5 linked regions of the Homo sapiens genome follow. The protein of the gene in region 5 purifies or fractionates together with the protein of the main gene of each other region. This does not show direct contact. Each region holds a gene or a part of one and is shown on either strand. Other genes may lie near its edges. The genes, in order: SRGAP2, MTM1, BORCS5, SPEN and TRIML2.

Region 1 (3,610 bases), on a different chromosome or scaffold from region 5:
GCACTATATTAAAACATGAGATTTGCAATGGCATTGGCACCAAAAGTCCATTGCCACCTTGGGTGTACCTTGTACCTGCCTGGTCTCTGGTCGGCCTGCATACAATCAGAGATCAGAGAATAAGGCCACCCACGCCCGGTCTCCGCCCTCACCTAAATCTGAATAGAGTTGGGAGGATGTTAGGGTAGCCGGTTGGTGCTGATTCTGGAAAATGGGAAGACATAATTGTTTAACCCTTCTGTGCTGTGGCCCTCTGCTCCGGAAGACATGCTTTTAAAGCCCCATTTCCCTCTCCTGAAAAATGTGAAGGGTAAAGCAAAATGTGGACTAGGAGAAACCAAGTGACCTGTCTTCTCATCTAGTCGACTGACTTGACTCATGAATAAGAGCCCTTACTCAGATAGCGTTTTTTAAACCAGCAGTTCCCATAGGAAGGGTTCCTGCCTGTTAAAGAGCTGCAGCATGTGTTTGTGCAAGGCACTGTCCCTTCCTGGTCAGTCACTGGAAAGAGCCATGTGGCTCCAGCCCATTGAGACCTTAGCTGGGGAGTGGAAGAGGTGGGTGGCCTTGAATGTTACACCACATGGTTGGAGCTCTGGGTTTTCCTTTGTTTCAGAGTACAGAGGGAGGGGCCCCTCCTTTCCCTGCACCAGTGCAAGGAGACCTTTTCCTATCAGAGAGGACTTGGGAAGGGCCATGGCTCCCCTCTAATGATTGCTGGGGGGTGGGGGTAGGTGTAGAGTTTGAAATGGGCAGCTCCCTTATCTCTTGGAAGGTTGGAAGGTAGTCTGAAGTCCTCATTGTACCTACAGGATCTTTTTTATGTCATTAGTTTGGTCAGTGCTGGAGGTGCCCTAAGGGGCCTTCTATCCACTTGGCTGCAAATATTGGTAGGTTTATTACAGAGATGGGGGAGTTGACTGATTGATAGCTTCAGTTGAACTGGGATTGAGAGAGGTGTGGTTGTGAGTTATTATTGAGGTCTTGGCCTCTTGTCACTGTTCATAATCCAGGCTTGTTTTTGTAAACAATAGGCCACTGGCCTCCATGTCCTGTCCAGATGCATTGCATTTGCTCTTGGAATCCCCCCTGCAGTTTTAACCAGATATGTCTTTTTTTTTTTTTTTTTTTAACACATCCTATTCTTAAACTGTTGCCATCGGGAGTGTTAATAACTTTGATCTTCCCAGATTTCTCTCCAGAAGCACGCCATTTGACTAAGGTGCAAAGTGACTTTAAATGTTTAATTTTTGGAAGGTTCAAGGCTGATAGGTGTTAATAGAACCATATCTGCCAATTTCTTATTGGCAAAGGATTTCTCAAGAGTGTCTCAAAATTAAACACTTTGGATATTTACAAACATTGCTCATTGAGATGATGTAATGCAGTCGGCTATTTGGGTTCTCTCTTCAACCTTGCCACAAACAGACTATTTTGCTTTGCTCTGATATTTTCCCATTGATACTATTCAGGATCATAGAATTTTATAGGTGGCTGAGCATGATGTCTTACTCCGAGAAGGTGCCTGATGAATGCTTATGGAACTGATTTGAATAGTTTAGTCCTTCATTTTACAGCTGAGGAGAATACAGAGAACTGAAGAGGCTTGTCCAAGGTCACACGGCTAGATGGTGGCAGATCTGAAACTAGAAGCAGATTTACCAACTCTCAATTCTCTATTCTGTATCTTTACTATGAAACATCATCTGACCAGGGTGGAAAAAAATAAAAAATTCTTAAGGAGCCCAAATCTGTCAATGAATAATAATAGTAATAATGATAATGATAATAGATTACATTTTGGTTGCTCATTATGTTCCAGTCCATCCCAAGTGCTTTAAATGAATGGTCTGGTTTAATCCTTACCTCAACCCAGGAAATGGGTATTATTGTCACCTTCCATTCACCATATAAGGAAACTGAGGCTTAGAGAGGATGAGAAGCCCTTCCAAGGTCACACAGCCAAACCATGGCAGCTTGACTTCATTCCTTTATTCATTAACTATTTATTGAGTGCTTGCTGTGTGTTCTGGTGATTGGCCATACAGCTGTGAAGAAGAAAAAGTCTCTACCCTCATGGAGCTTATATTCTGGAAGCTGGGCTCTCTATGGAACAGCACAGAATTTGGAGACAAAGGGCCTGCGATCTGGTTTGGCTCTGCCCCCGACTAGCTAGAAGCCCTGGGTCAGAATTATTATGAGTGTCAGCTTTTTGTGTGTTATATGGGACTCATGGTGCTGCCAGACTTACTTCTCTTACAGATGCCAAGATAAAAAGAAAATTGCTGTAACAGCTATGCAGTTTGGTTTGGTTGTTAAGTGCAATTTTTAGAGTCAAAGTGATTCAGGTTTAAATCTTGGTTCTGACAGTAGCTAGCCTTTCACTTCAGGCAAGTTACATGACTTGTCTGAGCCTCAGTTTCCTTATTTGGAAAATAGGTAAAATAAAATACATTTCCTAAGATAGTAGTGAGTTGTTGATGAGATATATAAATTATTTAGAACAGTATCTTGCACTTGTAAGTGCTCAATAATGGTACGGTCTACTTCTCTGTGAGCCTTTCTTTTGCTGAATTGGGCTGACTATTGAGGCTGCATTGCATATTCACTCCCAAAGTGCCAGCTATTAAATGATAGGAAATAAGTAAGGAATGAAACTTAAGTTCTAGCTTAAGATCATTTAGTTGTAACAAAACATCTTGGGTCAGTCACTTAAACCCTCTGGACATCAGTTTCTTTTTCTGTCAGTGAACAAGTAAACTAATTATTGGCCACTGTGGTTCGGCCTGTCTTTGACCAGAGTCCCAGGTCCTGTTTTTTCAATCAGAATTGTTTGAGTCAAATGGACTCTAAATGGGACCCTCATCTCATGGGACTTTCTGGGACCCTCCCTATCCCTTGATTTTTGCCTCCCTATAAACCACCTGCTTGCATGTGCCCTGAGGAACTCCTGAGGCTTCAGCCCCAACCCTACCCCAGAGTGGTTTTATGAGGGGTGTGCCTCCTTAGTCAGCCTGCCTTGTAGTGTCTTCTTAAAAACCATCATTGTTTCTGGTTTGTGGGTGCCCAGATTCCTTGGAAAGTTCATGCCTCTCAATGTCTGACTTGAAAGCAATAATATTCTTAGTCTTTTTACATAGCTCTTTCCAATTTACATTATGCTTTCATATGTAGTTGTCCGTCAGTATCCTCAGGGGATTGGTTCAAGGACTACCCCCACTTCCCCCAGGATACCAAAATCTGCAGATGCTCAAGTCCCTGATAACTAATGGTGTGGTATTTGCGTATAACCTATGTACACACGTCCTTCTGTATACTTTAAATCATCTCTAGATTACTTATAATACCTAATACAGTGTAAATGCTATGTAAATAGTTATACTGCTTTTAAAATTTGTATTATTTTAAATTGTTGTATTGGTATTTTTATTGTTTTTTTTTTTTTCTTGAATATTTTCCATTCCCATTTGGTTGAATCTGCAGATATGGAACCTGCAGGTATGGGGAGGGCTGATGTACATTAATCTCTGGAAATTCTTTACAACCCTGGTCAGATTCATGGTCATAAACTGAAGCCTTTGGCCTCTAGCCTGTTAGCTTGTTGCTGGGA
Region 2 (3,610 bases), on a different chromosome or scaffold from region 5:
TCGAGTTCTTTGAAGTTCCCCTCAAGAAAGAAGATTGCATTTCATACATATACCAATGGTGCCTTTTTAATATGGCTTACAAAACTAAAAACTGAAACCGAGAAAAAACCCTGTAGTCATGAGAGCTGCAGGAAGTTGCAGCGGAGGCTGCAAACCCAGAAGTCAGACTTGCCTGGGTTCAAATCCTGATATTACTGCTTCCTAAACGCTTCAGCTTAGACCTAACCTCTCTGAAACTCAGTGGGGATCTTAACAGTTTTTACCTCAAAGCGATGCTGTGAGGATTCATATGAGACCTGATGTAAAAGCACTGGGCTAAGGACTTGGCAAAGATTACACCTAATATTAATGTAAATTATGACTGAGGCGGCTATTTAAGCATTGACAGTGAATCTGATGAAATCCTCAGCAAATCAAGACCAAATGTATCTCTCCACAGCTGTAGCTCCTGAACACTTGAACTGTGGCTAATCCAAACTGAGATGGGCTATAATGTAAAATATACACCTGATTGACAATTTAGTACCAAAAAAGGAAAAACGTGTCATTATTATGTCGATGACACATTGAAATATTTCGCACATGCTGTGTTAAATATATTAAAATTGATTTCACCTGTTTCTTTACTTGTTCAATGTGGCTACTAGAAAATTTTAAATTACACATTCTCTATTGGCTAGCGCTATCTTAAAGGACTGGGAAGCCAGGATATGAGCTGGTACTATTAGACTATTTCCGAACTTTAATTTACTGCAAAATCACCCGGGGGCCTCATTAAAATTCACATTCAGCTTAAGGAGTCGGTGGTGGGTCTCAGTGGGTGAGGATGGGGCTTGAAATTCTGCCTGTTTCACCAGCTCCCGGGGAGCAAGGGCAATCCCCATCAATAAGAAAAACCTGTTTCATGCCATAGGCGTAATGGGAATCTCTGGGGAGATTATTAGAGTTGATATAGTGAAGGAAGGACATGTCCAGCAGAGTTAGACTCAGCTTCAACTTTGAAAAAATCAGTTCTCTCTCCAAGCAAGGGATTCAAAGAGGTGGGGGCCAGCACCAACGGTCAGTCCTCCCTTTGTTAGGGCAGTAGGGACCTGTGCTTTCTCTCCCAGATCCAGAACCACTGACATGGGCAAGGAACACCTCAGAACCAGGAAACTCAAAATGGAATACTGGCTGGGGTTTCTCATATCCTCCTAGTCACATAACCCGTGTTAACCGCAGCGCCCTCCTGGGGTCTCACTGAAACCAAGTGCAAACTTTCCTTCTTACTGTTATCCACAAACAGTACTGACACGCAGGTATATTTCATGTCATGGCCAAGGGTCACTGCTGTGCAGGCAGGTACATTTCTTATTTCAGTAAAAGAGCTTGGGCCAATTCCAGGCCTGCTGGATTCCAGCATAGTACCTATTCTCCTAAATCCCCACCTAAGTTGTCTCAGGGCCATAAAGCAATTTAAAAGTCATATAAGGGAATTTAAAGCACCACCACCTGATGCTAAGAATCTACCTTATAACCCACCTCTGCCTCTACATCTCCCAAGAAGGGGAAAGGATAACTGATGTAGCAATCCATTACATTCCAAGCAAAAGGCTCTGGGAAATAAACAATGCTTCCTTCTCACAAAAAAGTTCAAGGACATGCTATCAAAATATAACAATTATCACATGCTAAAGAAAGGGCATTGCTGTGTGCTGTCAGGGTTTGGAGGCAAGGGGATAAGAGATGAATGAGTTACAAACAACTTTTATTTTTACTTTCAATTATTCCCCCTTCAACTTCCCACCCCAAACATACTAGCAAGCAAAGCAAAAACTAATCTGTACTCAAACTGCTCATGCCAAGAGTTCAAAAATCAAGAAGCTGAGAAGAAAAGGGTGGCAAGACAATGACTGATTCAAAGAACTTTCTCATTTGCTGTTTGACCACGGCAAGAAAGGTTAAGCATGAGCTCCATTTCATCTGGCAGACAGGGAGCATGATCTCTAGACATGCAACAGAATTGGTTACAATGATCATGTGTGAACAATTCTAAGCTGGCCTCCTTTGTCTAGTTCAAGTTAAATAATGTTTACTAAATGTCTACTGTGTGTATAGGACCATCTTAGGTTTCAGACAATCAGAAAAAATATCTCCAACCTCGCCCTTTTTATTACAATCATAGAAAATGAAAAACATACTGAAATATGTAGGAGTTACCTATTAAGACAAACAGTCAAGGAACAGCAATACTAAACTAATACAAGTACATGAAATTCATTGCAAAGTGCAACTTACAGAGACATTTCAAGATACTGAGAAACAACTTTAACGAGAAAAGGCCGCTCAGGCGCCTGCCCTATCACTCAGGAGCCTGCCCTGTTCCAGCAAGGAGGATGGTACAGACCTGGGGAGCTATCAACCATCTCTTCCCCAGAGCCTGGATCGCTTTTTATTCTAACCCCAGAAGCACAAGCATCCAGTCTAGTATGGACTCAGGAGCTGCGGTCAGGTCTCGATTGGAAAAGAGAAAGTCTTCCATTCTGAGACACTTGGGAGAGGCAGGCAACATTCCCTGAGGCTGAGCTTGCCTTGCTGTCACCCTGTGATTGTTGGTTATACACTACTACCATTTTAGGAATACATAAAACAAAAACTTGTTATGGTATACCAGTGACATCAGGCCCCTATGAAAGAGGCAATATAAATACCTGCATATTTTAATGATGACAGAAGAGGGAGATTGAGGCAGAGAGGCCACACCTACAGCCACAGGGAAGACAGTCCAAGAACAGGAAGGACAACTGCCCTCTTATACCAGTTCTCCAAATAGCAACTGCTTATACAACACATTCATGCAATAATAATAATGCTGCACACTTTACAAAGGGCTCTGAGGCACATTTGATTCTCTGACGAACTCTGGAAACTTGGCAGGGCAGGTTTTATTAGCTCTATCTTACAGATGGAAGAGCCACTAGCAGCAAGGTTAAATGACTTGTCCAGTGACACAGAGTTAAGGAAGAGAACTGGGACCTGAACTCAGCTTCTGGAATCCAAATGCAGGAAGCTTTCTACCACCTCACACAAACAAAAGGCTCATTTACCATAGTTCCTCTGGTAGAAATAGAAAGCACTAGTAGTACACAATGCCAATTATCTAAAGAGATGCCTCCACATTCTTAAAAAGAAAAAGATGAGACTGTCGTGGTACTCACAGTGGAAAAATACACTGCAAAGATTTCCAATGAAAAATCTTCCCCCAACTACAGGATGACAACGGGACCTAACTCAGTAACTCCTACTGGGTCTCCTGATACACTCTCACTTTCAAGGCAGATAAACTAGAAGAAGGCCTCTCTTGCTCTATTATTGTTTGTAGCAACAAAATTTGGCCTCAAGAAATTTCTAAGTCCAAATGGTAAAGGGAATATAGCACTGCAAGAACGGAGGACACTGCTGCCAGCGTCGCCTGGAACCAAAAGCTCGTGCCAACAAGGAAATGCAGAGAAATGTCGAGAAAAGCAAGCTACTGGATTCCAAAAGTTTATTAAGACATAGCTAGAATAATGTATTTTCTTAAAAACAAAAGAGTTCCATATCGTTCAAGTCAATAACAGCTTTTCTTTAG
Region 3 (3,610 bases), on a different chromosome or scaffold from region 5:
AAGCTACAATTCAAGAGGAGATTTGGGTAGGGACACAGCCAAACCATAACATCTTATTAAAATAATGATTCACAGACCACACCTAGACTTACTGGGAGGAGGGGAGAACTCAGTATTAAAACAAACAAAAAACTCACATGATGCCAATGAATAGTCATGTTTGGAAAGTAAAGCTTGGTAGACCATAATATAGTAAAATAAGTTTATAATATTTGCAAAGCCACATCAATGAAAAGCAATATCAAAGGTCATGTTTAATAGTTTTCCAAATAATAGTATTTAACCCATGAGAGAAGAGTATATGCATGCAACATTTTATGAAAGCTAAGCACTAAAATGTTGGAGGTGTTGGCAAATTTAAATCTGTCAATATAACTAATGACTGCTTTGTAATCTCAAGGATACACTACCTCCATTGCTAAATACAAATTGTTAATCTGCAGTGATTCTTGCTCCATCACTTGTTTCTCCATGTCCATCTTCTCTCACCAGAGTTAAAGGGCCACTTTGTTAAACAAATCTGGGAGTGCCATTCACAGAAGTGGTTTCTCCAGTAAACAGCTCCTAACATTTCCTTGATATTACAGTACATCAAGGTATCAGGAATATAAAGTTTTTCTTGACTGGAAACTTTGGAAAATGTACTTACTTATTCCTTTATGCCCCTAGAACTGTGCTGTGCAGCAGCTGGTCAATGATACATTTAAGTGCTTAAAGGAAGTACCTATTTACTGAGATTGATAATTACACAACATTTGCATCATGTGCTTCAGTTTACTAAGTACTTTCACATGAATTACATTGCTTCTTTCCTTTAAAAACTTTGCGGGTTAAATAGGCGTAATTGTTTCCATAAAACCATTAAGAATCACTGGAGCTTTTCGTATCAAAGCTCCTGCTTTGAAAGAAATTTTAATCTACTGGGAAACAAAATATAAATTATACACAGGAAACAATTAAAGTCAATTCAAAGACAGAATGGTGGCTAGAGCAAATTAGTATGGCAGGACTTTACATGCACTAATAATAGCTAACACTTACTAAGCAATCTGTCACTCAACCCTTGGGGTAAGTTACTACTATTAGCCCCATTTTTCACATGAGGAAACTGAGACAGAGAAGTTAAGCAACTTGGCCAAGCAAATCAGTGGTGATCAGAATTCAAACTCTAAATTAGCCCAGCTCTGTGGACCACTTTTTTCATCATCACATTTTACTGCTGGGAAAAAGCAATCTCCTCAAAGCAATAGTGACAAATGTCAAGTCTTAAGATGGCATCCAGAGTTGCAGAGAATCACAACAACCAGTCAGCAATGTTATTTTCCCGCAGCACATTACCTCTTTGATTCGTTTAACCAAAGCATTCTGGTCAAAAGCAACGGCCTCTGCACACTGATGCAGGTGATCTTGATATCGGAGGCAGAGCTGCAACACCTGCTGAGAGTCCAGTTTCTCCAATTTGGCATTTGTTGGGGAAGTCTGGCCACTCAATAGCCCTTCAAAGGAGAAAAAAATGAAATGAAATTAAAATTACTGCTAATAAACTTGTGAATAAAGTAGTTTAACAAGTTCACTGAAGACAGGGTAAGACTTCAATTTAATCTTGCATCTTTTGTTATATGTTAATGACAATCGTTGCAATTATTATTTATGGGGCATCTGTTATGTGCCAAGCACTTTTGCTAAGTGCTTCTTGTGCACGATTTTTCGTATTCACAGCTGCCCTGGAAAGTGAGGTATTATTAGCTCCATTTACACAGGAGGAAGCCAAGACACAGAGAAGTTAAGTAACTTTCCAAACGTCACATAGCTAGTAAGTGGTTTCTCCAAGAACAGAGCTCCTGACCTTATCACATCACTTCAAGGTACTAGGAATATAAATCCCTTATTAATTGAAAATGTGGGAATATAATTTTTAAAAATAATTAAAATGGTTGTCTGAAAAACTGAGAAAAAGAAATCAAATGTATACAGAAACTGCTAGGAGATGCTAAAATGGAGACATTTAACAAGTAAACAGACTGTCAGCTAACAGGCCAGAAACTCATTCTTTACATTTTCTTTCAACACCAGCTTAGCCAGGTAACCATTAATCTCCCCTGTATTTGCATAGGGGATTATATTTTTATAGGTATGTAGCAGGGCAATTAATAGCATTTGCAGGAGAAGAAATCAATTGAAGAGGCCAAATGATGCCCACATTCACAAAGCAAAGCCCAGTCTAGAAATTAAGCCTATTGCTTTCTGCCAAATCAACAGTTCTCAATTATCAGAACCTCTACACTCTCAAAAATTACCAAGGACCCCAAAGAGCTTTTATGTGAGTTTTATCTTTTGATATTCACCTATAAAAATTAAAACTGAGAACATTCTTAAATATTAAATCATTTAAATATAATGATAACCCCTTTATACATTAACAAAAATAACATTTTAAGGAAAATATTCTTCCAAACCAAAAAAGTGAAATGATGCCACTGGTTTATTTTTATTAATGTCTTTTTAATGTCTGCCTTAATAGAAAACAGCTGGAATATCATAGCTGCTTCTGCATTTAATCTGTTGCTATTTCACATCATTTAGCCTCTGGAAAACTCCACTGGACACTTCTGTAAGAGAATGAGCATGTTTTGCAAATAATGTCTAAGTATTATTACAAACATAGTTTTGACCTCAGAGATTCCCTAGCAGGGTCTTGGGGATCCCAGTGATCGCCCTACCACATGCCAGACCATTCTGTCTCACAGCAGAGCCAATGCTACAGCACAAGGAACACAGAATACATATGACAGTAGGTCACGTGCAGGGCACAGCAAAGCTTTTTTTTTTTTTTTTTTTTTTTGAGACAGAGTCTTGCTCTGTTGCCCATCTGGAGTGCAGTGGCGTGATCTTAGCTCACTGCAACCTCGACCTCCTGGACCCAAGCAATCTTCCTACCTCAGCCTCCAGAGTAGCTGAGGCCACAGGCACTTGTTACCACAGCCAGCTAGTTTTTGTATTTTTAGTAGAGACAGGGTTTTGCTGCCCAGGTTGGTCTCGAACTTCTGGGCTCAAGCGATCCTCCCGCCTCAGTGTAAGCCACCTCACCTGGCCAAAGCTCATCTTGGGAACCCTTCCTCACCGACCCCAACCACCAATGTCCACCCCTCACTGTCCCCAACCACCAACATCCACACCACACTGTTCTGATATATTAGAGCTGAAGCCAGTATTCTCTCCCTCCAGACAGGCTGTATGAAGGGCTACCCAGCTAGGTTGTCCCAGAGAATCCTGGGAAATGCTGGTCGATGCTCTCAGATCTTCTGAGACAGAGCAGCATACAGGGCTGGAACCCGAGGCACTGCTAGGCTCCTCCACATTCCACTGCTCAGCTGCTGCACTACAAGTCCTAACACAGGAGAGCACCAGTTACTTGACCTGAACCTGCTTCCAGGCAGTATGTTTTGGTGAATCCAGTATTAGCAGAAATTGGGAATTTTTTAATTGAAATTTTTATTGAGATCCTATGTATAGGATCCCGTGTCCCCTTTACCCAATTTCCCTCAATGGAAACATCTTGTAAAACTATGGTACAATATCACAACCAGGATATTGACATAGATATAATCTG
Region 4 (3,610 bases), on a different chromosome or scaffold from region 5:
CATTACACTCCAACCTGGGTAGAAAAAAAACAATTTTTTTATGAAAATAAATAAATAAATAGGGGCCGGGCACGGTGGCTCACGCCTGTAATACCAGCACTTTGGGAGGCTGAGGCAGGCAGATCACTTGAGGTCAGGAGTTCAAGACCAGCCTGGCCAACATGGTGAAACCTTGTCTCTACTAAAAATACAAAAACTAGCTGGGCGTGGTAGCACACGCCTGTAATCCCAGCTACTCAGGAGGCTGAAGCACAAGAATAGCTTGAACCCGGGAGGCAGAGGTTGCAGTGAGCTGAGATCACGCCACTGCACTCCAGCCTGGGCAACAGAACGAGACTCCGTCTCAAAAAAAAAAGGCTGGGTGCAGTGGCTCACACCTGTAATCCCAGCACTTTGAGAGGCCGAGGCAGACAGATCACTTGAGCCCAGGAGTTCGAGACCAGCCTGGGCAACAGAGTGAGACCTTGTCTCTACAGAAAATACAAAAATTAGCCGAGTATGGTGGTGTGCGCCTGTAGTCCTAGCTACTTGGAAAGCTAAGATGGGAGGATCTCTTGAGCCCGGGAGGTTGAAGGGACACAGTAAGCAGTGATCACACCACTGCACTCCAGCATGGGTGACAAAGTGAGATCCTGTCTCAAGAAAAAAAAAAATACAGGAAGGAGAAAAGCAGATAGGCCATAACTGATGGTTGTTGGAGATGAACGAGAGGAACTTGGGATTCACTGACTATTGTGTCCACTTTTGTGTATGTTCAAAATTCCTGAGATAGAATTTTTAAGATATATAACACAAATTGATCATATAGTAATATATATGCTTCTTTACTAACACACCAAATAAAAGTATCTAGGCCAGGCGCAGTGGCTTATGACTGTAATCCCAGCACATTGTAAAGTCGAGGTGGGCGGATCACCTAAGATCAGGAGTTCAAGACCAGCCTAGCCAACATGGTGAAACCCCGTCTCTATTAAAAACACAAAAATTAGCTGGGCATGGTGGTGGGCGCCTGTAATTCCAGTTACTCGAGAAACTGAGGCAGGAGAATTGCTGGAACCTGGGAGGCAGAGGTTGCAGTGAGCCGAGATCATGCCATTGCACTCCAGCCTGGGTGACACAGCAAGACTCTGTCTCAAAAAAAAAAAAAAAAAAAAGTATCTGGCAGCAGATCTAACAGCCACTGTAATTTCCAAGTTGTGATGACAATAATGAAGTATTTGCAAAAACTGTAATATAAAATATGAAAATATATATGATTTGTATTGGTGACGAAAATCACAACTACTATTAGTTTTCTCTATATTATAGTTGAAGGAAATATTAGATCCCAGTAAGAAGTTACTAAAAATAAAGAGGTATTTTCCCACCCAAGTTTAGTACTTCCTCCTGAATTCTGATCGATGAGGTCTTCATTAAAGATTCTAACATCTGGCCGGGCACGGTGGCTCACACCTGTAATCCCAGCACTTTGGGAGGCCGAGGCGGGCGGATCCTGAGGTCAGGAGATCGAGACCATGCTGGCTAACATGGTGAAACCCCGTCTCTACTAAAAATACAAAAAAATTAGCCGGGTGTGGTGGCAGGTGCCTGTAATCCCAGCTATTTGGGAGGCTGACGCAGAATGGTGTGAACCCAGGAGGTGGAGCTTGCAGTGAGCCGAGATCACACCACTGCACTCCAGCCTGGGCAAGAGAGAGAAACTCCGTCTCAAAAAAAAAAAAAAAAAAAAGTTCTAGCATCCTTTTCACACAATAAAGTAATAAATTACTCTTTTATCTTTTAATCCAAGGACACTTTTAAATAATCTTGAATGCAAATGAGCCTTCACTGCAAACAGCATAATTTTTTTTTTTTCTCGAGACAGAGTCTTGCTCTGTCACCCAGGCTGGAGTGCAATGGCATGATCTTGGCTCACTGCACCCTCCACCTCCTGGGTTCAAGCGATTCTCCTGCCTCAGCCTCCCGAGTAGCTGGGATTATAGGTGCTTGCCACCATGCCAGGCTAATTTTTTGTATTTTTAGTAGAGATAGGGTTTCACCATGTTGGCCAGGCTCGTCTCAAACTCCTGACCTCATGATCCGCCCGCCCGCCTCAGCCTCCCAAAGTGCTGGGATTACAGGCATGAGCCACCGCACCCAGCTGCAAACAGTGTAATTTAAAAAAATTACTGGTTCAGACAAAATACTTCTACCTACCAATTTGATTGGTAAAAGACAAATCGCTATATGTTAAATATAGTTTTGTAAACTGCAAAATGTTTTTTGAGTACATAAGCCCCAGTTTTTAAATCAAAGGAAAAATAAATGATGTGTAAAAAAAAAATCACTTTTAGTCAATTTTAAGAATCAAAGAAACTATAAATGTATTATATGTAAAAGTACATACGTTATGTGTAACATAATGGGAATATAACAATCAAAGTCAATACAATGTATAATTAAAAGAATCTTCATATCATTTGGCAATGTTCCCTAGTGACCCAAACAGCATCTAATACAAAGACAGGCACATGCAACCCTTGCATTTAAGGCTGGACTAAAAATCTAGCACCAGGTACACAGGATAAGAAATAGTGTTTCTCATTTGAATTTTCCCACAAATCTTCCTTAATTCTAAGGATTGGAGCAGTTCCTTAAACTATATAATACAAATCTTTAAATATGCTAGAGTTCATTTCATTTCTATACTCAAAATGAAATCATAAGTAATTAAATCCAAGAATTCACTAAATTTAAGTTAGGATTTTATAGAGCCATTCCACTATGGTTTTTTTAGATGCTTGTAATCTTCAACTTGGCAGACAGGAATACATGTAGGGAGAACAATCTGAATATTGAGATACTTTAAAATTATATCCAAAAAATCTTTTCACTCACTGCAAAGCATATTTCCACACACTAAAAACCAGCTAGATATCACATAAAAATTACATGGTTTTGGCCGGTCGCGGTGGCTCACACCTATAATCCCAGCACTTTGGGAGGCCGAGGTGGGCAGATCACCTGAGGTTAAGAGTTCGAGACCAGCCTCAACACAGAGAAACCCCGTCTCTACTAAAAACACAAAATTAGCTGGGTGTGGTGGTGCATGCCTGTAATCCCAGCTACTTGGGAGGCTGAGGCAGAATTGCTTGAACCTGGGAGGCAGAGGTCGCGGTGAGCCGAGATAGCACCATTGCACTCCAGCCTGGGCAACAGGAGCGAAACTCCGTCTCAAAAACAAACAAAAAAAAACTACATGCTTTCTAATAAAATGATTAACATTCTAATTGGTTTCCACAGAGGAGTACACTATTTTCATTCAAAATATGTGTAGCTGTAAGGCAAGTAAAAATAATAAGTTTAAAGAAAAATTTAAACCAAATAGTAAAGAAGATTGTTAATTTAACTACAGATAAATGTACTTTATTTAGTCTCCTTGTTCAGCAGGCTAATATATGTGTTTCAAGGGGCTGAACAGCACTTATTTCAAATCATCTAATAACACAATTCAGGAGCCCAATTTAATGAATATATACACTCAAGGTATTTTCAGACTACATTATTTACTCTAAATACTGTGGATGGTTAACTACAGCTCAAACTAACACTAAAAATGTTTTAAAAATAA
Region 5 (3,610 bases):
AATCAAAAAAAAAAACCAAAACCAAAACCAAAAAAAAAAAAACCCTGCTTTTCTGCCTGCTACCCCAGGAACAGACATAATTAGGCAAGGCCATGATATTCTTCTGCTGAAGCAGGATTCCTCTCAAGAGACAGTTGATTCTTTGCCCCCTGTTATGTATGTTTAAGCCAATACAGATGTGTGTGCACGCAGCCCTTACTCACATTAATATGCACCTAAAACATTTCATGTTTTTTCTGTGGCTGTTTGTTCAGAAGGTTCCCTATTTTTTCATTAACTTGAAATCAATTAAAATTAAGGTATATAGATTAACTAATAAGAAATAAATAATTACGTTACTGATATCAATTTTCTTTTTATCCTTCCAAGTATACTTTACATATACTGCGTAGTCACATACGCAACTTGAGTATGTTATTTAGGGGGAAAAAACATAAACATAAGTGATAGTTTATTATATTTGATTACTAATCTGACAACTTACTTTATTCTTGGAGAACATTCCTTATTCATATACACAGAGCCATGACATCATCTTAACATGCTGAAGAGTATTCTTCCATGTATGTATGGAGCACATTTTGTGAGTCTTCTATTGACAAATACAGGGTGTTTCTAACCTCTTGCTATGAATGTTATAATTGTAACATCTGCTACTCATCAACTGCTTAACATGAACAAGACACGATTTAATAAGCTTTAGCAGATTATCTCACTCAAATCTCACAATAATTTTATAAATTAGGGGTCACTGTTATATCCAGTTTACAGCTAAAGGAACCAAGTCAAAGGTTAAGCAGCAGGTCGTAGGCCACCCAGGAGCCAGTAAACAGCTGGCTCAGATAGGAACTCCATTCATCCGGCTTCAAAGGTGAATTCTAGGCCGGGCGCGGTGGCTCACGCCTGTAATCCCAGCACTTTGGGAGGCTGAGGCGGGTGGATCATGAGGTCAGGAGATCGAGACCATCCTGGCTAACACGGTGAAACCCCGTCTCTACTAAATATACAAAAAATTAGCCGGGCGTAGTGGCGGGCACCTGTAATCCCAGCTACTTGGGAGGCTGAGGCAGGAGAATGGCGTGAACCCGGGAGGCGAAGCTTGCAGTGAGCTGAGATTGCGCCACTGCACTCCAGCCTGGAGACAGAGCCAGACTCTGTCTCAAAAAAAAGAAAGGTGAATTCTAAACCATGGCTCTAAACTGAAACTCAGTTTCAGTGTTGCCTTACCCAGGTGTCTTTTTCTATGTGTGTAAGTATGTTTGAAGCATAATACAGTAATATGTGTACAAATATATTTATAGGTATATTGTGCTTTATTTATGTCTTTTTATATGCATGTCAAGATAAATTCATAGAAATGGAGTTGCCAGGTAGGTATATAATTCATTTAATACATGTGTGGTTGTCACTGGCTATGTTATTTTGGAATTGACATAATGTTTAGCTCTTCTTTTTCTCATTTCTCAAATATGAGGATGTTGTTTTCAATATCTCACCTGTAGCATTTCCTGGAACATCTCCTCTAGCTCGGTGGCAAGCTTGATCGCTTGATTCAGAAGGGTTTCTCTCAGGTTCAAGTCAGATATGCATTCCTGCTGTCTCTGGAGATTCTGCTCACACTCTTCATTCAACAACCGGAGTCTCATACTATACTCAGACTCAATCATCTTTTTAAAATTTTGTTCCTCTTCCTTCCTCATATAGACATGATAGACTTCAGGTTAAACATGATAGATTAACAACACACACACACGTCATAATAGATAGATATCTATATCTATATATAGATATATATATCTTACACTGACCACAATGTATTCTTTCCATCTCTAACCCCAATATAAAGACAAGGAAGGCTGGGCGCAGTGGCTCACGCCTGCAATCCCAGCACTTTGGGAGGCCAAAGTGGGTGGATCACGAGGTCAGGAGATCGAGACCATACTGGCCAGCATGGTGAAACCCCATCTCTACTAAAAATACAAAAATTAGCTGGGCGTGGTGGGGAGCACCCATAATCCCAGCTACTCGGAAGGCTAAGGCAGGAGAATCGCTTGAACCTGGGAGGTGGAGGTTGCAGTGAGCAGAGATTACGCCACTGCACTCCAGCCTGGCAACAGAGCTAGACTCTGTCTCAAAAAAACAAACAAACAAAAAAAGACGAGGAAATGTAAAGTACAGAAGAAAAGGAATAAACCCAAAGGAGAAATAGAATTTGAGTCAACATCAGCCAAGACATCAACACAATTTTAGAACATAAAATGCAGACGAAGAAATGTTCATCAATGAATTGGCTGGGCGCGGTGGTTCACGCCTGTAATCCCAGCACTTTGGGAGGCCGAGGCAGGCGGATCACGAGGTCAGGAGATCGAGACCATCCTGGCTAACACGGTGAAACCCCGTCTCTACTAAAAATACAAAAAATTAGCCGGGCTTGGTGGCGGGCGCCTGTAGTCCCAGCTACTCGGGAGGCTGAGGCAGGAGAATGGCGTGAACCCGGGAGGTGGAGCTTGCAGTGAGCCGAGATGGCGCCACCGCACTCCAGCCTGGGCGACAGAGGGAGACTCCATCTTAAAAAAAAAAAAAAAAAAAAGAAATGTTCATCAATAAGGAAAAACTAAGGAAGCTATAGCCTCTGTCAAACAGAGGAGGAGACCAGGACATTGGAAAAGGGCCAATGGGATTTGCTGATGCTTGGGTAAGAGTTGTGGGGAAAAAAGGAGTCATGGACGAAAGACACCAAAAATTTTAGACTAAGCAACTGGAAGAATGGAATTACCAAAATATATAGAGAGAATCTATGGAAAGGCTGGATTCCAGAAGTGAGGAGTGTGCGTTAGCTCGGGATGTGATGAATTTGATTAGTCAATTAGACATCCAAGTAAAGATAGTAAGTAGGAAATTGGACATGAAGCCTACTACCATTTGGAAATCTGAGCTAGGGATATATATTTGAAAGTAGTCATCTTAGAGATGCTTAAATAGCATCTCTATTAAGCTATTTAAGATTCAGTGAAATTGTCCGGGCTCACGTCTGTAATCCCAGCACTTTGGGAGGCCAAGGCAGGTGGATCATGGGGTCAGCAGTTCGAGACCAGCCTGACCAACATGGTGAAACCCCGTCTCTACTAAAAATAAAAAAATTAGCCAGGCATGATGACGGGCCCCTGTAATGTCAGCTACCTGGGAGACTAAGGCAGGAGAATTGCTTGAACCCGGGAGGCGGAGGTTGCAGTGAGCCGAGATCGCGTCACTGAACTCTAGCCTGGGTAACAAGAACGAAACTTCATCTCAAAAAAAAAAAAAAAAAGATTCAATGAAATCAAGATTTATCAAGAACCTGACTACTTCTCACCACTGCTCTACCTGTCCCCCAGCTCACCATCATCTCTCCCTAATTATTGCAAGTCCCTTTGCACGTCTCTCCACCTCTGCTTTTACTCTCTTGGTTTTTTTTTTTTTTTTTTTTTTTTTGAGACGGAGTCTCGCTCTGTCGCCCAGGCTGGAGTGCAGTGGCGCCATCTCGGCTCACTGCAAGCTCCGCCTCCAAAGTTCATGCCATTCTCCTGCCTCAGTCACCTGAGTAGCTGGGACTACAGGCACCTGCCACCAC

Evidence for each region.
Region 1: the proteins of TRIML2 (region 5) and SRGAP2 purify together in Homo sapiens (affinity purification with mass spectrometry; 2 studies listed by BioGRID and IntAct, with this or other methods). This does not show direct contact.
Region 2: the proteins of TRIML2 (region 5) and MTM1 purify together in Homo sapiens (affinity purification with mass spectrometry; 2 studies listed by BioGRID and IntAct, with this or other methods). This does not show direct contact.
Region 3: the proteins of TRIML2 (region 5) and BORCS5 purify together in Homo sapiens (affinity purification with mass spectrometry; 2 studies listed by BioGRID and IntAct, with this or other methods). This does not show direct contact.
Region 4: the proteins of TRIML2 (region 5) and SPEN purify together in Homo sapiens (affinity purification with mass spectrometry; 2 studies listed by BioGRID and IntAct, with this or other methods). This does not show direct contact.

Annotation. Positions count from the first base shown.
Region 1 is NC_000001.11:206,206,511-206,210,120, forward strand, and holds part of SRGAP2 (SLIT-ROBO Rho GTPase-activating protein 2), read left to right. Parts: intron 1-3,610. UniProt on the Homo sapiens protein: Postsynaptic RAC1 GTPase activating protein (GAP) that plays a key role in neuronal morphogenesis and migration mainly during development of the cerebral cortex. Regulates excitatory and inhibitory synapse maturation and density in cortical pyramidal neurons.
Region 2 is NC_000023.11:150,571,563-150,575,172, reverse strand, and holds part of MTM1 (myotubularin), read right to left. Parts: intron 1-3,610. UniProt on the Homo sapiens protein: Lipid phosphatase which dephosphorylates phosphatidylinositol 3-monophosphate (PI3P) and phosphatidylinositol 3,5-bisphosphate (PI(3,5)P2). Has also been shown to dephosphorylate phosphotyrosine- and phosphoserine-containing peptides.
Region 3 is NC_000012.12:12,433,514-12,437,123, reverse strand, and holds part of BORCS5 (BLOC-1-related complex subunit 5), read right to left. Parts: intron 1,497-3,610; coding exon 1,339-1,496; intron 1-1,338.
Region 4 is NC_000001.11:15,854,110-15,857,719, reverse strand, and holds part of SPEN (msx2-interacting protein), read right to left. Parts: intron 1-3,610. UniProt on the Homo sapiens protein: May serve as a nuclear matrix platform that organizes and integrates transcriptional responses. In osteoblasts, supports transcription activation: synergizes with RUNX2 to enhance FGFR2-mediated activation of the osteocalcin FGF-responsive element (OCFRE).
Region 5 is NC_000004.12:188,099,560-188,103,169, forward strand, and holds part of TRIML2 (probable E3 ubiquitin-protein ligase TRIML2), read right to left. Parts: intron 1,715-3,610; exon of another isoform or gene 1,701-1,714; coding exon of another isoform or gene 1,692-1,700; coding exon 1,497-1,691; intron 1-1,496.